4 separate regions of the Homo sapiens genome follow, and regions 2, 3 and 4 are each linked to region 1. Evidence: fine-mapped expression QTL. A gene starts in region 1. Each other region holds a variant in brackets. All regions are shown on one strand. Distances are between the middles of the regions.

Region 1 (5,146 bases):
CAAAGGTGCCAGGCGTGGTGCTGGGCACCAAGGTGCTTTCCATCCCTTCCCTGCTAGGGGATTCCCTGAGCCTCCACAGTGGGAGGCCCTTTACCACCTATGACGCTGACCACGATTCAAGCAACAGCAACTGTGCAGTGATTGTCCACGGTGCCTGGTGGTATGCATCCTGTTACCGATCAAATCTCAATGGTCGCTATGCAGTGTCTGAGGCTGCCGCCCACAAATATGGCATTGACTGGGCCTCAGGCCGTGGTGTGGGCCACCCCTACCGCAGGGTTCGGATGATGCTTCGATAGGGCACTCTGGCAGCCAGTGCCCTTATCTCTCCTGTACAGCTTCCGGATCGTCAGCCACCTTGCCTTTGCCAACCACCTCTGCTTGCCTGTCCACATTTAAAAATAAAATCATTTTAGCCCTTTCAAGACTCTTCCAGTTACTGGGAAAAAACCCTAGAGGGCAGAGCAGGGACACAAGTTTCAGCTCCATTCAGGGAAGAATTTCCTTCCAGTCAGGAAGATGGAAAGGACAGCCTCTAAAGTAGTGAGGCTTCTGTCTCTGGAGGTGTGCAAGACAAGGCCAGAGGGGCATATAGTGGAAGGACTGGAGGAGATTCAAGCATCCATTGACAATTTCCTGAGGCTCTCTGGGTCCTGCAAGTGGATGGCTTTGTGGCAGGAATTGCACAATTGCACAGCTTTTTTGTTTGTTTGTTTGTTTGTTTGTTTTTGAGACGCAGTCTCGCTCTGTCGCCCAGGCTGGAGTGCAGTGGCACCATCCTGGCTCACTGCAAGCTCTGCCTCCCAGGTTCACGCCATTCTCCTGCCTCAGCCTCCCGAGTAGCTGGAACTACAGGCACCCGTTACCACGCCCGGCGAATTTTTTGTATTTTTAGTAGAGACGGGGTTTCATCATGTTAGCCAGGATGGTCTCAATCTCCTGACCTCATGATCTGCCCTCCTCGGCCTCCCAAAGTGCTGGGATTACAGGTGTGAGCCACTGCGCCCGGCCGCTTTTTTTTTTTTTTTTTTTTTGAGATGGAGTCTTGCTCTGTCGCCCTGCCCAGGCTGGAGTGCAATGAGCCAGAGGGGCATACAGTGGAAGGATTAGAGGAGATCCAAGCATCCATTGACAATTTCCCGAGGCCCTCTGGGTCCTGCAAGTGGATGGCTTTGTGGCAGGAATTGCACAATTGCATAGCTTTTTTTTTTTTTGAGATGGAGTCTTGCTCTGTCGCCCCGCCCAGGCTGGAGTGCAATGGCACGATCTCCACTCACCGCAACCTCCATCTCCCAGGTTCAAGTGATTCTCCTGCCTCAGCTCCCAAGTAGCTGGGATCACAGGCAGGTGCCACCACACCCAGCTACTTTTTTTTGTATTTTTAGTAGAGACGGGGTTTCACCATGTTGGCCAGGCTGGTCTCGAACTCCTGACCTCGTGATCCACTCATCTTGGCCTCCCAAAGTGGGATTACAGGCATGAGCCACCGCCCTGGCTGGGAATTGCACAGCTTTCTCAGCCTGTCGGTTGCCCATGCCTGTCCTTTGTAAGTTGTCTGTTTTCCACTCCAGCCTCTGTTGCAGGCCAAGTTCTCAAACTCTACCACTTCCTGCCTATCTCATTGGGTGTCAGTTCGAATCCAAGGTCAAACCAAGGAAGGTACCTTTTTCTTCCACAAGGCAACAGGGCAATGAAACAGCCATTGAGTAGCATTTAAGCAGTTTATTTGCCCAAAGCCACATTCTAGTAAGTGGCAGAATTAAATAGTTAAGAGTCTGACAGGCGGTCCTGGGTTTGCACCCTGCTGTCATGTGCTGAGTGATCCTGGACAAGTTATTCAACTTAAGTCCCCAGTTCTTGGTTTCAGGGTCCACTGAGGCTTCTACCAGGTTGCTGCCTCACTCATTAATTCACACAAGAAAGTTGGGGACTCTTGGGGATTTGAAGCTGAGAAGCTGCTGTAGTGCAAAGGGCTGGGGTTGACTCCTTCAAGGGGTGGCTAAAGAAATGTTTAGAGTTGTTTAGAGTAGGAAGTGCTTCTCAGGTCCCATGGCCACGTTCTGCCTAGAAGTCAAAGGTCAGCGGGGGTCCACAGCAGGTTGGGTCCTGGGGAAAGCAGCCCCCTAGTGACAGTTAAGGCTCAGATGCCAAGTCCCACTCCAGGACTGAAGGCTTTCGGGCAAGCGGCCTAGGGTGTAGGTTTCCCCCATCCCAGTCCCTCCCTGCCTGCGCTCACTGGGCCCGGGAGGACACCCATTGTTCATCATGCTCTGCGCACCCTGATGTCTCTAGAGAGCCATTCATTCAACAGATACCTGCAGAGCAGGGCCTGCATATCGAACCTTTTCCCTAGCCCTGGCCTCCTCACACATTTTATGTGCACTTGCTGTGAGCAGTCCACAGTCTTTGGCGTGCACAGGGGCACAGGCTGTTCCGGAAGCCGCCAGTCTCCAAAGTTCTGGCGGGAGAGAAGGGAGGGGAGAGGCTGAGTCTCAAGCCGCTAGGGAGCGGCTCTGCCCCAGGGCCGAGGGTGGAGCTTTCTGGGTCGGCCGGGAAAGGGCTGGGCTTAGCCTACAAGTGAAGGCAGGGCAGCGTTGGCGGGCGCTCCCTTGAGAAGTCCAGGTGGCGGGCACCTCCGAGCCGATTCCCAGGATCCCCCAAGTGGCTCTGAGCTGCCGATCACCGGATGCCCCAGATTCCTGGGACCCAATCCCGGATTTCAGAACCTCAGGACCTTGCAAGTCCGAGCTAGGATTTCTCCCTGGACTTTAGATTCCTGGAACGGGACGTCAGGCCGTATTCCGGATCCCTAGATCCCGTGGGAGATTCTCCGATTCCGAACGGATTCCAGATCCCAAGATTCCTGATCTGCCGGCCCAGGCTCCTGCCCCGCCCCCGGTTCCCAGTGCGCGGCGCCCCGCGCCTGAGCGCCCCCGCATGGCGGGGCCGTGTCCCCGGTCCGGGGCGGAGCGCGCCGGCAGCTGCTGGCAGGACCCGCTGGCCGTGGCGCTGAGCCGGGGCCGGCAGCTCGCGGCGCCCCCGGGCCGGGGCTGCGCGCGGAGCCGGCCGCTCAGCGTGGTCTACGTGCTGACCCGGGAGCCGCAGCCCGGGCTCGAGCCTCGGGAGGGAACCGAGGCGGAGCCGCTGCCCCTGCGCTGCCTGCGCGAGGCTTGCGCGCAGGTCCCCCGGCCGCGGCCGCCCCCGCAGCTGCGCAGCCTGCCCTTCGGGACGCTGGAGCTAGGCGACACCGCGGCTCTGGATGCCTTCTACAACGCGGGTGAGAGCGCTGGGGGCGGGGCCGGATCCGGGCGGGACTCAGGGTCCTGGGAGGGGACCAAGCCGGGCTCGAAGGCTCAAGGGAGGGGCCGAGAGGGGTACCGGGTCTAGGGGACTTAAAGTGAGCTAAAGCTGAAGGGCTTGGGACAGGGCCGTGAAAAAAGTGGGATTTAGGGGATCTGGGGCGCGGCCGGGCTCGGGACGAGACAGGGATCCGGGCGCGGCTCTAGGGCTCGAGGTTGGGGCTTAGGCACCCTTCAGTCGGAGCGGTGCCCAGCCAGCGGGGCAAGGATGGGGAGGGGCTTTGGAACTCTGGGGCGGGGCGGGGAGCGGCGCGGGGCTGTGGTGTCTCAGGGGTGGGGTTGGAGAACTCAGCCTCACCCTCAGGAGAATGTCACGCGGATCTCTTGAGGACAATTACTGGGAGAGGAGCTTGGACTTAGGGAAAGGGGCCGGGAGGCTGGAGTTCAGGAGTCCTAGCATACTATTTCCAAGGATCGGGCTAGGAGAGGCAAAAAGAGAAGCGAAGGGGCCCGACGGGACTGGATACTGGGTGAGGGAGCTTAGGTTAAGTGGCCTCAGCGGCCCAGAAAGAATGGGCGGGGAAGGGGCGGGGAAGTGGGCGGGAAAGGATGGCTCAGGGGCGGGGCCAGAAGGAGGCTATTCCCCCGCGAGTCACTCCTCCCTCCAGCCAGCCCGGATGCTCGGCCCCCATACTTACTTGCTTATGCTAGAGTCCAGTAGCTGTGCTTCCTGGATGTCCATGAAATCGTAGCCTAAAATGAAGGCTGACCCGACCACTCGGACACAAAGATACAATTATCGACAGACACAAATCGCATACATGTTGACTCATGCAGGCCCTAGCAGACGCTGTCACACACACAGATACAGTCAGACATAGTAAGCTATACATGTCACAGATATACACATACATACATTTAGGCACAGCGTTGTCTATGCACACTGATGGTAGCCCCTTTCAAGAGCCTGTGCTGAAGACCAAAGGGAGGGGACTTCTATGTTTGCGCAACTCCCACCTCCTAAATGGCCCGTAACAGACTCAACTGGTCCACAGCCTCCCTTCCCCCATGCCAGGTGCTCACAGGCTCTGAACCGTGGCCTGAGGGTCCCAACCCAGTGAGCCCAACTCCTCTCCTGCAACACTACAGAGATCAGTTCTGTGAAAGTGCCAGGGGAACCCTAAAAAGGGCCGACTGAAGCCCAAAGCAGAACCAGACCCTACTGGAGTCCCACAGCAAGGCAGGTCAAGCCAGGATGGACCCCGGCTCCTTCCCCATCAAGCTGGGCTTCAGGGATCAGCGCCACCCCCTCTGTGCCTGCAGATGTGGTGGTGCTGGAGGTGAGCAGCTCGCTGGTACAGCCCTCCCTGTTCTACCACCTTGGTGTGCGTGAGAGCTTCAGCATGACCAACAATGTGCTCCTCTGCTCCCAGGCCGACCTCCCTGACCTGCAGGCCCTGCGGGTAGGTGGCCTGGGGCTGGTGGAGGCAGGCACAGGGCTGGGGTAAGGCCTACACAGAACACCAGTATCTGACTGTCTGCCTCCTGCAGGAGGATGTTTTCCAGAAGAACTCGGTGAGCAGAATCCACCTCTCACTCAAAAGTGCCCTTTGACTTCCGCTATGACCTCTGACCTCCACTAATCCCCCTGGCCTCCTCAGTCACCTAACCCCCCACTGACATCCCAAGTATTCCTCTGTTTCCTGTTGCCTCCTCTCATGACGGGTGCCCCTTTCCTGCGATTCCAATTCCCACTGATGCTGACCTTTGATGCTCTCACTCCCCTTGTCTAGCCCTGTGCTGACCTCTGACCTCACTGATTCCTGCCTCCCTCCCACCAGGATTGC
Region 2 (5,146 bases), 82 kb after region 1:
ACTGTCTCAAAAACAACAACAACAACAAAAAACAAAACAAACCCTTGAGGTTCAGCAGTAATATACAGCAAGATTGTGTTCAAGCCCAAGTCTGTCTGACTCCCACATGCCCTACTTGCCTCATTATGACTACTTAGTAACCTAGAGATTAAGTAATAAATTAGTCCTGAAGTGAAAAAGACTTTGAGTGTTTAAGGGAATGGGTGTGTGTGGGTTTTTTTTGTTTTTTTTTTTTGAGACAGCGTCTCGCTCTGTCACCCAGGCTGGAGTGCAGTGGTGCAATCTCGGCTCACTGCAACTTCCACCTCCCGGGTTCAAGCGATTCTCCTGTGTCAGCCTCCTGAGTAGCTGGGATTACAGGTGTGCACCACCACGCCCAGCTAATTTTTGTATTTTTAGTAGAGACAGGGTTTCACCATGTTGGCCAGGCTGGTCTCGAACTCCTGACCTCAGGTGATCCACCTGCCTTGGCCTCCCAAAGTGCTGGGATTGTAGGCATGAGCCAGAATGCCCTGTTGGGAGTGAGTGTTTTAAATTAGTTTGACTGCTTCTGAAAAACAATCTGGTAATAGTAACAAAGATTAAAAACAATTTCTAGTTTTTGACTCAAAACTTCCACTTCCAAGAAATAATCCAGGCCAGGCGTGGTGGCTCATGCCTATAATCCCAGCACTTTGGGAGGCTGAGGCGGGCAGATCACAAGGTCAGGAGATCCAGACCATCCTGGCTAACACGGTGAAACCCCGTCTCTACTAAAAATATAAAAAAATTAGCCGGGCGTGCGCCTGTAGTCCCAGCTACTCGGGAGGCTGAGGCAGGAGGATGGTGTGAACCCAGGAGGCAGAGCTTGCAGTGAGCTGAGATCACGCCACTGCACTCCAGCCTGGGCAACAGAGCGAGACTCCATCTCAAAAAAAAAAAAAAAAAAAAGGAAATAATCCAAAAAGAAAAAAGGGACCTGGTCAGAAATGCTTGGATGCCTCTTATAATAGCAAATATTGGAAACAGCTCAAATGTTGGACAATAGGGAAGGGCTGAGCATCAAGAGGATACATCTCTATGCAGTATTTATTAAAAAAAAAAACAAAAAAAACCGGCCAGGTGCCGTGGCTCACACCTGTAATCCCAACACTTTGGGGGGCCGAGGTAGGCGGATTACCTGAGGTCAGGAGTTTGAGACCACCCTGGCCAACATGGTGAAACCCCGTCTTTACTACAAAAAAAATTAGCCGGATGTGGTGGTGTGCACCTGTAATCCCAGCTGCTCGGAAGGTTGAAGCAGGAGAATCACTTGAAGCCGGGAGGTGGAGGTTGCAGTGAGCTGAGATGGCATCACTGCACTCCAGCATGGGTGACAGAGCAAACAAGACTCCATCTCAAAAAAAAAAAAAAAAAAAAAAACCACCATCCTGATAAAGGCAAGAACAAAATACTCCAGATGACATCTGATAAGAAAAAAACAGCTGCAACCATAGCTTCAAATAATGAAAAAAGAAAGTATGCAGTTCTGGGCTGGGCGCTGTGGCTCGCACCTGTAATCCCAGCACTTTGGGAGGCGGAGGCAGGTGGATCACCTGAGGTCGGGAATTCAAGATCAGCCTTACCAACATGGAGAAACCCTGTCTCTACTAAAAATACAAAAAATTAGCCGGGTGTGGTGGTGTATGCCTGTAGTCCCAGCTACTCGGGAGGCTGAGGCAGCGGTGAGCCGAGATCTTGCCACTGTACTCCAGCCTGGGCAACAAGAGCGAGACTCTGTCTCAAAAAAAAAAAAAGAAAAGAAACAAGAAAGAAAGTATGTAGTTCTATCACATAACTTTGAGGATAAAAAATATTTGGGAGTGGTGTTGAATTCTCGTGTGAGTTCAAAAAATTGAAATATCTTTTTTTTAAAATTGAAAAGTTCCTCCCTACCCACAACAAGGCTGAGTGGTAGTGTTGGGGGAGGGGCAATGTCCTACACTGAAACAGCTGATGTCCCACTTGACTTTAAATGTTCACAAAGAACAACAATTCACTCTTTCCACATAGGCTTCTCTAAGGGCCATTAGAACAAGGTCTAGCCAGGCACTGTGGCTCATGCCTGTAATCCCAACACTTTGGGAGGCTTAGGTGGGTGGATAACCTGAGGTCAGGAGTTCGAAACTGGCCTGGCCAACATGGTGAAACCCTATCTCTACTAAAAATACAAAAATCTGCCAGGTGTGGTGGTGCACACCTGTAATCCCAGCTACTTAGGAGGCTGAGGCACAAGAATCGCTTGAACCCAGAGGCGGAGGTTGCAGTGAGCCAAGATTGTGCCAACTGCACTCCAGCCTGGGCGACATTCAGAGTAAGACTCACCCTCAAAAAAAAAAAAAAAAAAAAAAGACCAAGGTCTAGATGAAATAGACATGATTTAATTATTTTAGGGACAACCAGTAGTCTTTAATCCTGTCTAGAGACGGCATACACTCAATGCACAGCAGAAATAAACTGGGGAGCCCTTGTCATGATCTTGTGGCTGCTGCCACACGCATCACACACCATAGTCACCACCAGGGGGAGCGCATGAGTTAAATACATATACATCTGCAGTGTTTCCACTACCTAAAGAAAGAAGAATCCTTTTCAGGTTGTTTTTTTTTTTTT[A/T]AATAGAAGAGGAGGCTGACAGTCTGCATGTAAGTGCCGTTCCCAAGGTCTTACCGTTAGGGAGTATCAAGACCATTATGAAATTCTGGTGTTAGAAATCAATGTCTTGTGCTCTGATGCTAAACTAATGGCTTAGGTCCCCTTCCCCAGGCCTGACTGTGCAGACTAAAATTGGACCTAAACTCTTTGCAGGGGAAGAAAGCAGTTTCCGTTAGTCATATAAGAGGTAAATCATCATTGTTCTGTCTCTAAAGGCGAGAATCATAGCTTGAGAAGAAAAAAGGGTTTAGGAAAACAAGTAGGTTTGGAGCTATCATCTTGTTCAGGTATCTTGTAATTCCTCTTGATATTAATTACGAAAATATTTCTTAGAATAGTGAGGGTTTCCGAAGGACAACTTCATTCTCACATCTATCCATTATAGAATCTCAGAGCTGGAAAGGCCCTTCCTTGCAGGCCATTTCTTCCAACTTTAAATCTTGGAGATAAAGCACCTGGCGAGTGGACAAGTGCAGGGATAGGACATTTACTCATCTCCTCCAGGGGCCCATTCTACATTTTTCAAAGAGCTCTAAGCATTAGACAGTTCTTTCTTTCCTCAGGCCCACATTTAATTCTGTGGACTTACAGCCACTAGTCCTAGGTCTGTTTTCCACAACAAAAAAACATGTCTCATGTCATTTCCAGGGCTTCAACAGAGCTTCAAAGGTCTGAAGACACTTGTAAGTCCCCTTCTCACCTCTCCTCCGCTCAACTCCCCTCCTCCAACAAATCAAAATATTCATTTCCTATGAAGGGGTAGAACAGATAAAAAGCACTGGGCACAGACTTTATTTTTATCAATTATCTCATTGAACTGTCACATCAACCTTGTAGACTGTTATTTCCTTTTAAAAAAATTAATTTGTTTACAAATCTGGGAGATTTTCCTTCGCTGCTTCCTTTTTTACAGATGAGCAAACAGGCTCAGACAGGTCAGGTGATTTGCCCAGGTCACACAATGCCCAAGAAGCAGATAAGGGAGTCAAACCCAGGTATGCCTGCTCTCTAAGTTCACGTTCAGAACCATACCCCCACCACTACCATTCACATAAAGATAAATTCATCTAGAATTGGCCGCTTAGCTCTAAAAGAGGAAGAAGAACATGGAAGAGAAATGAGGTTTCAGGAATCACCAACAGATACTTAGATCATAAGGTTGTCTGTGACCCTAGACGGTATATGGGACACACACATACCAACATGGCGTGGCCACAGCCCAGTCACTCTTGTGCTTGATCTGTGGCTTGTGCTTGCTCTGTGGCTTGTCCTGCTCACCTTGACAGAGAAGATATTTGCGGTGTGTCCCGTGTGCATGGAGAGCAGCTTCTTGTGGTGCAGCGGGTCCCACACAATCGTGTGCTGGTCATCGGAACCAGAGGCCAGCAAGCTGAAAGCAGAGTGAGGGATTGTGATCTCTCCTCAAATTCCTAGGCTCCCTTTCCCCATCCCATGTTCTCAGTTTACAAGGAGTTAGGTTACAGAATTTGAAGAACAGTAAATGTCACAGAATTTAAGGTTGCCTTGTAAACAGCTGATTCTCTTCTATTTTGTCCTGAGAAATTTCCATTATTCTTTTTTTTTTTTTTGAAATGGAGTCTCGCTCTGTCCCCCAGGCTGGAAGTGCAGTGGCGCGATCTCGGCTCACTGCAAGCTCCGCCTCCCAGGTTCACGCCATTCTCCTGCCTCAGCCTCCTGAGTAGCTGGGACTACAGGCGCCCGCCACCACACCCGGCTAATTTTTTGTTTTTTTGTAGAGACGGGGTTTCACTGTGTTAGGCAGGATGGTCTCAATCTCCTGACCTCGTGATCCACCCGCCTCGGCCTCCCAAAGTGCTAGGATTACAGGCGTGAGCCACTACGCCCGGCCAAGAAATTTCTATCATTCTTAAACACATTGGCTTATTAAAAAAACAGGGTTTTGGGCCGGGCGCGGTAGTTCATGCCTGTAATCCTAGCACTTTGGGAGGCTGAGGCAGGTGGATTGCCTGAGCTCAGGAGTTTGAGACCAGCCTGGGCAACATGGCAAAACCTCGTCTCTACTAAAAATACAAAAAATTAGCCAGGCATGGTGGCGCATGCCTGTAGTCCCAGTTACTTGGGAGGCTGATTAAGGAGAACCGCTTGAACCTGAAAGGCGGAGGTTGCAGTGAGCCAAGATCACGCCATTGCACTCCAGCCTGGGTGACAGAATGAGACTCTGTCTCTAAAACAAAACAAAACAAAACAAAACAGGGTTTGGATGGTCATCCAACTTTCCATCTATCTGAGATTGTTTAATTGTGTTGAAAATTATGGGCTAAGCTGAAGAACGGCAGACAGCAGCAGTCTCTTTTCATTTGGGTCCAATCTTTTCCTTGGATCCTCTCAGGAGGAGCCTTGCTGTTCCACCCTCCTTACTTCCTTCCCCAGCACCCTTCAGGTGCTCTAGCTCATACTTACTCTCCTTTCTCATTCCACTCCAGACAGTTGACAC
Region 3 (5,146 bases), 130 kb after region 1:
TTACAAGTGTGAACCATCTGGCCAGGCACGGTGGCTCATCCCCGTAATCCCAACACTTTGGGAGGCCAAGGCAGGAGGATCACTGGAGGTCAGGAGTTGGAGACCAGCCTGGCCAACATGGTAAAACCCCGTCTCTACTAAAAATACAAAAATTAGCCAGGCGTGATGGCACACGCCTGTAATCCTAGCTACTCAGGAGGCTGAGGCAAGAGAATCGCTTGAACCCAGGAGCCTGAGGCTGCAGTGAGCCAAGATTGCACCACTGCACTCCATCTTGGGTGACACAGCGAGACTCTCAAAAAAAAAAAAACAAAAAAAAACAGTGTGAGACATCACACCCAGCCACTTGTTTGAGCTTTGTGAAAATTTTTTCTGGATGTTTTCAGAACTTTGTTTTCCAGTGATCATAGCTAATTTTCCTGTCTGCTCTTAGGCCTCACAATTACCTTAAGATAGTGGAAGGAAACAGAGAAAAGGGAGCATATTTTGATAATGCTATACTCTCTCACTATTTAAAAGCATCTGCAGTCTTTAACTTGCATCCTGACAAATCCTGCCACAATTCAAAATATCTCTTGTAGAGAAGGCTCTGGAGTTTCATCCTGTAACTCTACTACTAGCTGCAAGGTCAAGGAAAACTAAACCATTCAAGTTAGAAATGTTTCCTTTCTAACTCAGTGACAGTAGTGTTATATCCAGATGTGTAACTCAAAAGGGAACCAGGTAGGCCATCAGCACCCAAACACTCAGGCCTCAACTATGAAGCTCCCTGACCATGAATGCCTAGCTCCCATTCTCAGGAAGGCCCCCTAAGAGGTTCAAGGATAAGCAGTTTTATAGAATTTGGGGGGTCATGAATAAGGACAAAATTGTACAAAAGTCCTGATCCAAACACTGCCCTCAACAGCCTCTGGAGAGCTCCCTGGGCAAGGTCTGATCCTGTTCTCCACCCCATCTCCAAGAAAATGGGGTTAATACCTCCCCAGATGGCTATACGGAGGATTAAGGGTCATTATTCTTGGCACTGAGCTCTGTTACAGCTCTAGCAGTTGTGACCTTGTATCCTAAAAGAAGATAATAAATACAAAAATGCCAACGGTGACCCTCAAATCTGGCTCTGCAGTAGTAGCTGAGAATTTTCTTTGCACAGGGCCTCTGACACTGCCTCCTATACACTCTGGCCTTTTGACTGCATCCTCCCCTTATTCAGGCTTAAAGTTTTTTTGTTTTTTTTTTTTGAGATGGAGTCTCACTGTCACCCAGGCTGGAGTACAGTGTTGCGATCTCAACTCACTGCAACCTCCACCTTCTGAGTTCATGCGATTCTCCTGCCGCAGCCTCCTGAGTAGCTGGGACTACAGACACCCGCCACCACGCCAGGCTAATTTTTGTATTTTTAGTAGAGACAGGGTTTCACCACCTTGGCCAGGCTGGTCTCAAACTCCTGACCTTGTGATCCGCCCACCTCAGCCTCCCAAAGTTCTGGGATTACAGGCATGAGCCACTGCGCCCAGCCCAGGCTTAAAAGTTTTTAAGGTATTAGTCTTCAATGCCACAAAGCCCTTCAAGGAGTCAGCAGCTATTACTTAATAGCTCAAAGAATGGGCCCTAGAACTCTCAGAGTTACACATAGGCCTGAATTTACCCAGAAGAAGCCAACTAAGTGGTATTCCTTTACATCCAAGCCCTGGCTCTTGAGGGCAATCAGTGAGGTCTAGTAAAAAGGATATATTTCATCATTTAGTCCTCAAAAACCCACTAAAAAGTAGGTACTACAATAAGCCTCATTTTATAGGTGAAACTATAGCTCTGAGAGGATACATGATTGGCCCTAGGTCACAGAGCTAAGGAGGAGACATGGGTTCAAATATCAGCCCTACACTACTAGTTGTGTAACCTCCAGCATATTCCTTAACTTTAGTCTAGAGTCTCAGTTTCTCATTTGTAAAGTGGGGATAATGGTAATACCTTCCTTCCAGGGGAGCTCTGAAGATTATAAGAGACATTATAGAAAAAGTAGAGCTGGGCCTGGTGGCTCATGCCTGTAATCCCAGCACTTTGGGGGGCCAAGGTGAGTGGATCACCTGAGGTCAGGAATTCGAGACCAGCTTGGCCAACATGGTGAAACCCCATCTCTACTAAAAAAATACAAAAATTATCCAGGCATGGTGGCGCGCACCTATAATCTCAGCTACTCAGAAGGCTGAGGCAGGAGAATTGCTTGAACCTAGGAGGCGGAGGTTGCAGTGAGCAGAGATCGTGTGCACTCCAGCCTGGGCAATAAGAGCAAAACTCTGTCTTAAAAAAAGAAAGAAAAAGTATCTAGCAAGTGCCTGGTATATACTAAATATTCAATACATGTTAGTTTTTTTGGGTTTTTTTGGTTTTTTTTTTTTTTTTGAGACAGAGTCTCACTCTGTCCCCCAGGCTGGAGTGCACACGATCTTGGCTCACTGCAACCTCTGCGTCCCAGGTTCAAGCAATTCTCATGACTCAGCCTCCCAAGTAGCTGGGATTACAGGTGTGCACCACCACGGCTGGCTAATTTTTTGTATTTTTAGTAGAGACAGGTTTGCCATGTTGCCCAGGCTGGCCTCCAACTCCTGAGCTCTGCCCACATCAGCTTCCCAAAGTGCTAGGATTACAGGCATGAGCCACTGCACAACTGGCTTTTTTTTTTTTTTTTTTTTTTT[G/TG]AGACAGGGTCTCTGTTGCCCATGCTGGAGTTCAGTAGCGCAGTCTTGGCTCACTGCAACCTCTGCCTCCTGCACTCAAGTGATGCCCCCGCCTCAGATTCCTGGGTAGATGGGAATACAGGCACATGCTACCACACCTGGCTAATTTTTAAATTTTCTTTTTGTAGAGACTGGGTTTCACTATGTTGCTCAGGCTGGTCTCAAACTCCTGGGCTCAAGCAATCCACCCACCTAGGCCTCCCAAAGTGCTGGGATTACAGGTGTGAGCCACCGTGCCAAGCCATGTTAGGTTTTACAGATCAAACAGACAGGGAGGCTGGGCATGGTGGCTCACACCTGTATTCCCAGGACTTTGGGAGGCTGAGGTAGGCAGACTGCTTGAGCCCAGGAGTTTGAGACCAGCCTGAGCAACATAGTGAAACCCCATCTCTATGAAAAAATTAAAAAATTAGCCAGGCGTGATGGCACACACCTGTCTTCCCATCTACCCTGTCTCATAAAAAAAAAAAAAAAAAAAAAGCCAGGAGCGGTGGCTCATGCCTGTAATCCTAGCACTTTGGGAGACCGAGGCAGGTGGAACTCAGGAGTTCAAGACCAGCCTGGGCAACATGGCAAAACCCTGTCTCTAATAAAAATACAAAAAAATTAGCCGGGGCTGGGCGCGGTGTCTCACACCTGTAATCCCAGCACTTTGGGAGGCTGAGGCGGGCGGATCACCTGAGGTCAGGAGTTCAAGACCAGTCTGGTCAACATGGTGAAACCCCATCTCTACAAAAATACAAAAATTAGATGGGCGTGGTGGTACATGCCTATAATTCCAGCTACTTGGGAGGCTGAGGCATGAGAATCACTTGAACCTGGGAGGCAGAGGTTGCAGTGAGCCGAGATCATGCCACTGCACTCCAGCCTGGAAGATGAAGTGAGGCATGGGAATCACTTGAACCTGGGAGGCAGAGGTTGCAGTGAGCTGAGATCATGCCACTGCACTCCAGCCTGGATGACGAAGTAAGACTCTGTCTCAAAGAAAAAAAAAAGATGTGGCAAACTCTCTGCTTGAATATCTGCAATGATGGGTAACTCACTCCCTCACAAGGCAGCCCATTTTGTTTTTAGAAAGCTACATTATCTCCTATCAAACCAAAGTCTACCTTCTTGGAAATTATGTCATTTAATCCTGAGATGCCTTCTAGAATCACAGAGAACATCCAGTTTCCTTTCCCCATGACAATCTTCAAGTATTTGAATGAGGTATCATGTTCCCCCAGGCTCTTAGCCTTGGTCTTTTCAGTTCTTCTTCATGTGTCACAGTCCCAGAGGCAATTCAATATCACAGAGCAGAGAGACCTGGGTTTGAATTCCAGTCCTTCCTCTTACTTGCTGTGTGACCTTAAGCAAATAACTTAATTTCTCTGAATCTGTTTCTTCATAGGTATAATAGGGAAAATGATTCTCACCTCACAGGACAGTCATGAAGGTTACACTGGATAAAGTAAAAATACTAGCTAGCACTGAGCTCAAGATATACCAGGCCCTGAATAAAATGTCAGTCACTTTTTAGGACATATCCCAACTGGCAAATACCTCTCAAAGTAAATTAACTACACCAAGGAACTGGCTTCTTTCTTTTTTTTCTTTTCTTTTCTTTTTTTTTTTTTTGAGATGGAGTTTCACTTTTGTTGCCCAGGCTGGAGTGCAATGGCACGATCACAGCTCACCGCAACCTCCACCTCCTGGGTTCAAGCGATTTTCCTGCCTTAGTAGGAAAATCCCTCCTGAGTAGCTGGGACTACAGGCGCGTGCCACCATGCCCGGCTAATTTTTTTTGTATTTTTAGTAGAGATGGGGTTTCACCGTGTTAGCCAGGATGGTCTCAATCTCCTGACCTCGTGATCTGCCCACCTCAGCCTCCCAAAGTGCTGGGATTACAGGCGTGAGCCACCGCGCTCAGCCAGGAACTGGTTTCTAATAGCAACTGCCAGAACTTTGGCTTTTCAAGAGATGACAGCTAAGAAAGTACAACCTAAGGGTTTTGTGGGCCCAGCAATCTGCAATGGCAGCCTAAAGATACAGTGGAGCATCTGGAAAGGTGAGGTGGAAAGAAGAAAGGAAACAGAATAGATAACTAAACCAGTGACCCAAAGAAAACACAAGTATCACCAGATTACATGTTCTGTTTGACTTCCTCTCTGAGACTCAGAACTGCACATGTCAGCAACATTCCTTAATTTTTAAAAAGAGAGAAGAGAGTGGTCACGGAGGCCGTGTCTGTAGTCCCAGCTACTAGGAAGGCAGAGGTACGAGAATCCCTTGAGCTCAGGAGTTTGAGACCAGCCCAGGCAACAGAGTGAGACCCCATCTCAAAAAAATAAAAATAAAAGGAGAGGCCAGGTGCGGTGGCTCACACCTGTAATCCCAGCACTCTGGGAGGCCGAGGTCGGTGGATCACGAGGTCA
Region 4 (5,146 bases), 57 kb after region 1:
TCCAATTGAATAAGGTATGCAAGGATTTTTTTTTTTTGTTAAAATAGTGAGAACAAAATAACATTGCAATGTAAGATAAGAGTTGAATGAGCATGCCACTGATGGAGAAAGGGAGGTAATTTTCAAGAATCGGTATTTTTCCCCACAGATATGTTTTGATTGACATCAAGTGGATGTCATTGGCCATTTAATATTTAAAACAGCAAAATGCTTGTGAACATACACCCATTATTTTATGTACAATAAGGGAATGGGTAAGGGAAAAATAAAAGAATAGAGAAAACTATACTATAGTAATAGTCATGATGTGGTGGAACCAAATTGCAGTTTTCTAATTGAGAATGTAATCTTGGTCTATAAGAACAAAGTTCTAGAGTAAAGAAGCAGGTTCCTTTTTCAGTAGACACTTCTTGTCTGTTGCTGAAACACATCAATTGTATCTTCATCCTCCATTTCCAACTGTGCAGGTGTGTCTGTTTCATTGACTGGTTGCCTGTCAAATTAGAATCTGATCTGCCTCACTGACAAACTCTGTCATTCACAATAGACTTTCATTACTCTACTAAGTGGTATATGACTCTTTTTTTTTCTTTTATGAGATGGCATCTCGTTCTGTCACCCAGGCTGGAGGGCAGTGGCGCGATCTCGGCTCACTGCAACCTCCGCCTCCCGGGTTCAAGCAATTCTCCTGCCTCAGCTTCCCAAGTAGCTGAGACTACAGGCACATACCACCATGTCCAGCTATTTTTTTGTATTTTTAGTAGAGACGGGGTTTCACCATATTGGTCAGGCTGGTCTCAAACTCCAGACCTCAGGTGATCCACCCACCTTGGCCTCCCAAAGTGCTGGGATTACAGGTGTGAGCCACCATACCCGGCCGGTATATGACTTTTAATTTTAAACTGCACCATGGAACAATCCTGCCCCATTACCTTCAAATTAATAAGATTGTTATTCTCAGTCTTGACTCCTTCCTTGGGCTTTTCATCAGCCACACGAGTGCTGGAGTCTCCTCAGCTGCTACTTCACCAATGAGGCACCAGGTCTGCACAGAATGAATGAGCACACAAACGGCACCAGGAGAGGCAGAAGGAGGTGGAACAGTGGAACTATTCTGGGTCTGCTACATTTTCATGTAAACTTTAGGATCAGTTGGTGATACTCACAAAATAACTTGCTGGGACTATGACCAGGATCACATTGAAGCTATAGATCAAGTTGGAAAGAACTGACATCCTAATATTGAGTTTTCCTATCCGTGAACATGGACCATCTCTCCATTTACTTGATCTTCCTTGGTTTCTTTTATCAGTTTTGTAGTTTTGCTCATACAAACCTTGTACATATGTTGTTAGATTTATTCCTAAGTACTTTTTTGGGGGGATGCTAATGAGGGCTGAATACGTGGAGGACAAGGTGCTTTTAGAACAGTGAAACTATTCTGTATGACAATGTAATGGTGGATACGAGACATGCATTTGTCAAAACCCATAGAACTTTGCAACACAAAGAGTGAACCGTAATGTAAACTATGGACTTCAGTTATCATAATGTATCAATATTGGTTCATTAATTACAACAACACACTAATGCAAGATGTTAATAATTGGGAAAATTGAGCTGGGGAAAGAGGGTTATATGAAACTCATTATACTATCTGCTCAATTTTCTGTAAGCCTAAAACTGCTCTAGAAAGTAAAGGCTATTAATTTTTTAAAAAATGGAGTACCAACTCCAAATGAAATGGAGACCCTCGTGAAGTCTTCCAATGCCTCCCTTGCCTACAGGATTGAGTCTGTGGTCTCTCACCAGCCATAGGAAGTCCTTCAGTTTGACTGCTCCTCCAGTCTACCCTCTACAATCCAGCCAGATGGAGTCACTCAGGGTTCATGAAGGAACCTGAGACTCTGCACTACTCCCTGGTCTGGAACATTGTCCTTCCTTTGTCTGGTCTGGAAATGCCTTCAAGAAGCTTCTGCAGACGTTAATTTGGGTACACAGAGGAATGATACCAGCCCACAGTATCTGTTTTATAATACCACCTATTGTGTTTCCGGCAGGACCTCTCAGTAGTTTCAGTAGTGGAACTGCTATTCCCACAGACTAAACCATAGTTCCCCAACTGTGCATCAAGGTGCCTGAGGGCACCCACAGCAAATTCACAGGGGGCAAAGTAGGATATTTTGAAAGATATTCAACATCTTTGGCTAATGAGAGAACTATTAGCTCAAGGTAGTTCACAGTTCCATTATTACATTATGCCACAATCCTTTTGATGATGTCATCTTTAAGAAGCTGGGTCTTGGCCGGGCGCAGTGGCTCATGCCTGTAATCCCAGCACTTTGGGAGGCCGAGGCGGGTGGACCACAAGGTCAGGAGAG[C/T]GAGACCATCTTGGCTAACGTGGTGAAACCCCATCTCTACTAAAAACATAAAAAATAAGCCAGGTCTGGTGGCAGCTGCCTGTAGTCCCAGCTACTCAGGAGGCTGAGGCAGGAGAATGGCATGAACTCAGAAGGTGGAGCTTGCGGTGAGCCGAAATCGCACCACTGCACTCCAGCCTGGGCAACAGAGCAAGACTCCGCCTCAAAAAAAAAAAAAAAAAAAAAAAAGAAGCTGGGTCTTTAGTGGTTGCTGTGATAAAAAGCAAATGAAAATCAATGTGGGACAGGAAATGAAGGCAGCAGTGTTTGCTTTGATTAGAAAATTTAACAAGTTGTTCAGTGCCCAATGGGCAGCATAGATCCCATTAGTAATTGCAGTTGTTTAAGAATGAAGGCTGGGCGCGGTGGCTCACACCTGTAATCCCAGCACTTTGGGAGGTTGAGGCGGGCAGATCACCTGAGGTCAGGAGTTTGAGACCAGCCTGGCCAAGGTGGTGAAACCCCATCTCTGCTAAAAATACAAAAAATTAGCTGGGTGTGGTGGCGGGCACCTGTAATCCCAGCTACTTGGGAGGCTGAGGCAGGAGAATCGCTTGAACCCAGGAGGCGGAGGTTGCAGTGAGCCGCAATTGCACAATTGCACTCCAGCCTGGGCGACAAAAACGAAACTGTCTCAAAAAAAAAATAAAAAATAAAAAATAAATAAAAATGCAAAAAAAAAAAAATAGCTGGGCATGGTGGCACATGCCTGTAATCCCAGCTACTTGGGAGGCTGAGGTAGGAGAATCACTTGAACCCGGGAGGCGGTGGTTGCAGTGAGCTGAGATCATGCCACTGCACTCCAGCCTGGGCAACAGAGCAAGACTCCGTCTCAAAAAAAAAAAAAAAAAAAAAGAATGAAATAAATATTGTTTCTTCCAATTCAGGTGTATTATTTTTTAAATGGCAACTAACTTGTTAGGACATAAATACTTTTTAAGTGATTTGGACTTAACTACTTAATAAATTGAACTGTTATTTCTTTTGGCTTAGAGGCTCCATGAAAAAATTACTGAGATGGTAATGGTGCTGTGAGCTAAGAAAGTTCAGGAACCTATAGTCTAAGAGATTATCTAATCCAGGGCACTTCAAAAACTTGCATATGTGAAATCAATTTAGTGGGTTATAGCCATATTTTTTTCCCTAATAAAACAGAAGGGTAAGCAGAGTACACTGCATGTAGCAAGGGTAAATATTATTGTGTAAAACTTTTGTTCATTTTTTTTATATATATATACACACACACATATCTACAAGTAATCATGTGTATATTGGGTCACAATGTAAAATGGTTTGAAAAACCACTAAGATTCCAAGTCCCTTATTTTACTGATGAGAAAACAGCCAGAGAGTGAAAGCTGATGATTACAAATCACAGCCATGAGAGCTGGGCTCTGCACTCAGCCCTGCTGGGCTGGGTGGCCGCTGCTCACGGTGACCCTTCAAGGCAGGCCTCATTCTGTCCAGTAGAGGTGTGGTTACTAAGTCATAGAGCTACAGAGGTGAGGGACCAGGTGCCCTCACTTTGGTTCCAAGACCCATCTGCACCCCACAAATGCCACCAGCCACACCTAGAACAAAATGGTTTTAATCAATTGCGTCACCCTCACTCTCCTGGGAGCGGAGCAACAAAAAGGCTCGGCTCCTGCCCCCAGAGGACAGTAAGGCTTATGTGTCTCTCCACACTGCAGGGCCCAGGCTGGGCAGGCAGGGGGTGGGAAGCAGGACAGGGGGCAGGGAGGGAGGGTGGGAGGCAGGGAGGAAATGGCAGGTGGCTGGAACACAAGAAAGCAAAGGGGACCCAGCTGGTCCTTGGGCCCCAGGGCCCAGCCCCAATACTCCTGCTCTCCCTTCTCCCTGGCTAGAGAAAGGTCACGGAGAAGAGACAGGGGAGCAGGTCCCAGCAGCAGGAGAAGCAGCAGCAGCTGTTTCCTTCACCAATAAATATACTTCATTACCAAGCTAGAAGAGAGGGGTGGGAAGAGGGACTGGGGTGGGAAGGAAGGGGGAGAAGCTGCCACCTGTGTTGCTGGGATTAAAGCAATGAGATGGTGCCAGACCCCCCACCACTATCCTCACCCTCCACTTGTCTTCTTAAAACTGTGAAAAAGCTTTTAACATGGCCCTCCTGTCTCCAGGGCTGCTCTGAAGCCTGACTGAGAGGAGGCACCTGGCAGAGACAGGGGCTGAGGGAGGGAGCGAGGGAGTGGAGGGAGAGGAGAAGGGAGGCTGCTTTTCCCCAGGGGCTGCAGCTGGAGGGCTGGAGCCAAGTAAGCACTGAAGGGGAAGCAGGGAGGGAGAGAGGGGGAAGGATGAACCAACTACCTGGAGCAGCTGGAGCTAAGAGCCGGGGGCAGAGGGGAGGAGAGGCCTGGTGAGTGGTGGGTTGATCGCTGCATCCAGTGTAAAGCTTGGGGCTGCTGGGGAGGGAGGGGCCGAGTAAGGGACTTTCCCATCTGAGTGGCTCAGGAGACCCACCCCTCTCCCCTCAGAGCAGCAGGGGACAGAGAAAAGCCATCACTTCTTTGGTCTTTGTGGCGGCTCAGCATGTGGGATGGGAAGGAGGGCAGAAAGGGCAGAGAAGGGCCCTTAGCAGGAAGCGCCACCTCAGCAGAGTAGGCCTGGCTGGGAGCTCTGGCAGAAAGGTCACAGTGAGGCTGAGGAGCGCCCAAGAGGAGAATGGCCGTAGTGCAGAAGTGCTGGCATGGATGGGTGGGGTAAGGTGC

Alleles and levels. Positions count from the first base shown, and alleles are read on the strand shown. Sizes are in standard deviations (SD) of each study's normalised expression. Not every link is listed here.
As copies of TG replace G in region 3, the expression in fibroblasts of the gene that starts at base 2,574 in region 1 goes down (large effect, 0.85 SD a copy in GENCORD).

Evidence for each region. PIP is the estimated chance that this variant, and not a neighbour inherited with it, causes the effect. A credible set is the group of variants that fine-mapping cannot tell apart.
Region 2: its variant is the best candidate, but not a certain one, in a credible set for the expression of MAP3K6 in whole blood (INTERVAL, PIP 0.79).
Region 3: its variant is the best candidate, but not a certain one, in a credible set for the expression of MAP3K6 in fibroblasts (GENCORD, PIP 0.67).
Region 4: its variant is the best candidate, but not a certain one, in a credible set for the expression of MAP3K6 in whole blood (TOPMed, PIP 0.65).

What each region holds. Positions count from the first base shown.
Region 1 is chr1:27,364,389-27,369,534 of GRCh38, reverse strand. It overlaps MAP3K6 (mitogen-activated protein kinase kinase kinase 6), which reads left to right and starts at 2,574. Exons shown (of 29, transcript NM_004672.5): 1 at 2,574-3,277; 2 at 4,623-4,762; 3 at 4,851-4,874; 4 at 5,141-5,146. The coding sequence starts at 2,938. FCN3 (ficolin 3) reads left to right here. Exons shown (of 8, transcript NM_003665.4): 8 at 58-425. The coding sequence ends at 299. RefSeq lists enhancers at 1,708-2,649, 2,650-3,593 and silencers at 2,846-2,955, 2,986-3,205, 3,276-3,325, 3,916-3,985.
Region 2 is chr1:27,282,252-27,287,397 of GRCh38, reverse strand. WDTC1 (WD and tetratricopeptide repeats 1) reads right to left here. Exons shown (of 16, transcript NM_001276252.2): 4 at 5,113-5,146; 5 at 3,949-4,060. Among named protein-coding and RNA genes, the nearest start is that of TMEM222, 37 kb to the left of the region's middle. RefSeq lists an enhancer at 1-474 and a silencer at 2,534-2,613. The variant A/T (reference allele first, on the strand shown) is at 2,632.
Region 3 is chr1:27,237,065-27,242,210 of GRCh38, reverse strand. The region is part of intron 1 of WDTC1 (WD and tetratricopeptide repeats 1); the gene reads right to left. Among named protein-coding and RNA genes, the nearest start is that of WDTC1, 5.0 kb to the right of the region's middle. The variant G/TG (reference allele first, on the strand shown) is at 2,694.
Region 4 is chr1:27,307,089-27,312,234 of GRCh38, reverse strand. WDTC1 (WD and tetratricopeptide repeats 1) reads right to left here. Exons shown (of 16, transcript NM_001276252.2): 16 at 3,599-5,146. Among named protein-coding and RNA genes, the nearest start is that of TMEM222, 13 kb to the left of the region's middle. RefSeq lists enhancers at 3,403-3,927, 3,928-4,453, 4,454-4,979. The variant C/T (reference allele first, on the strand shown) is at 2,382.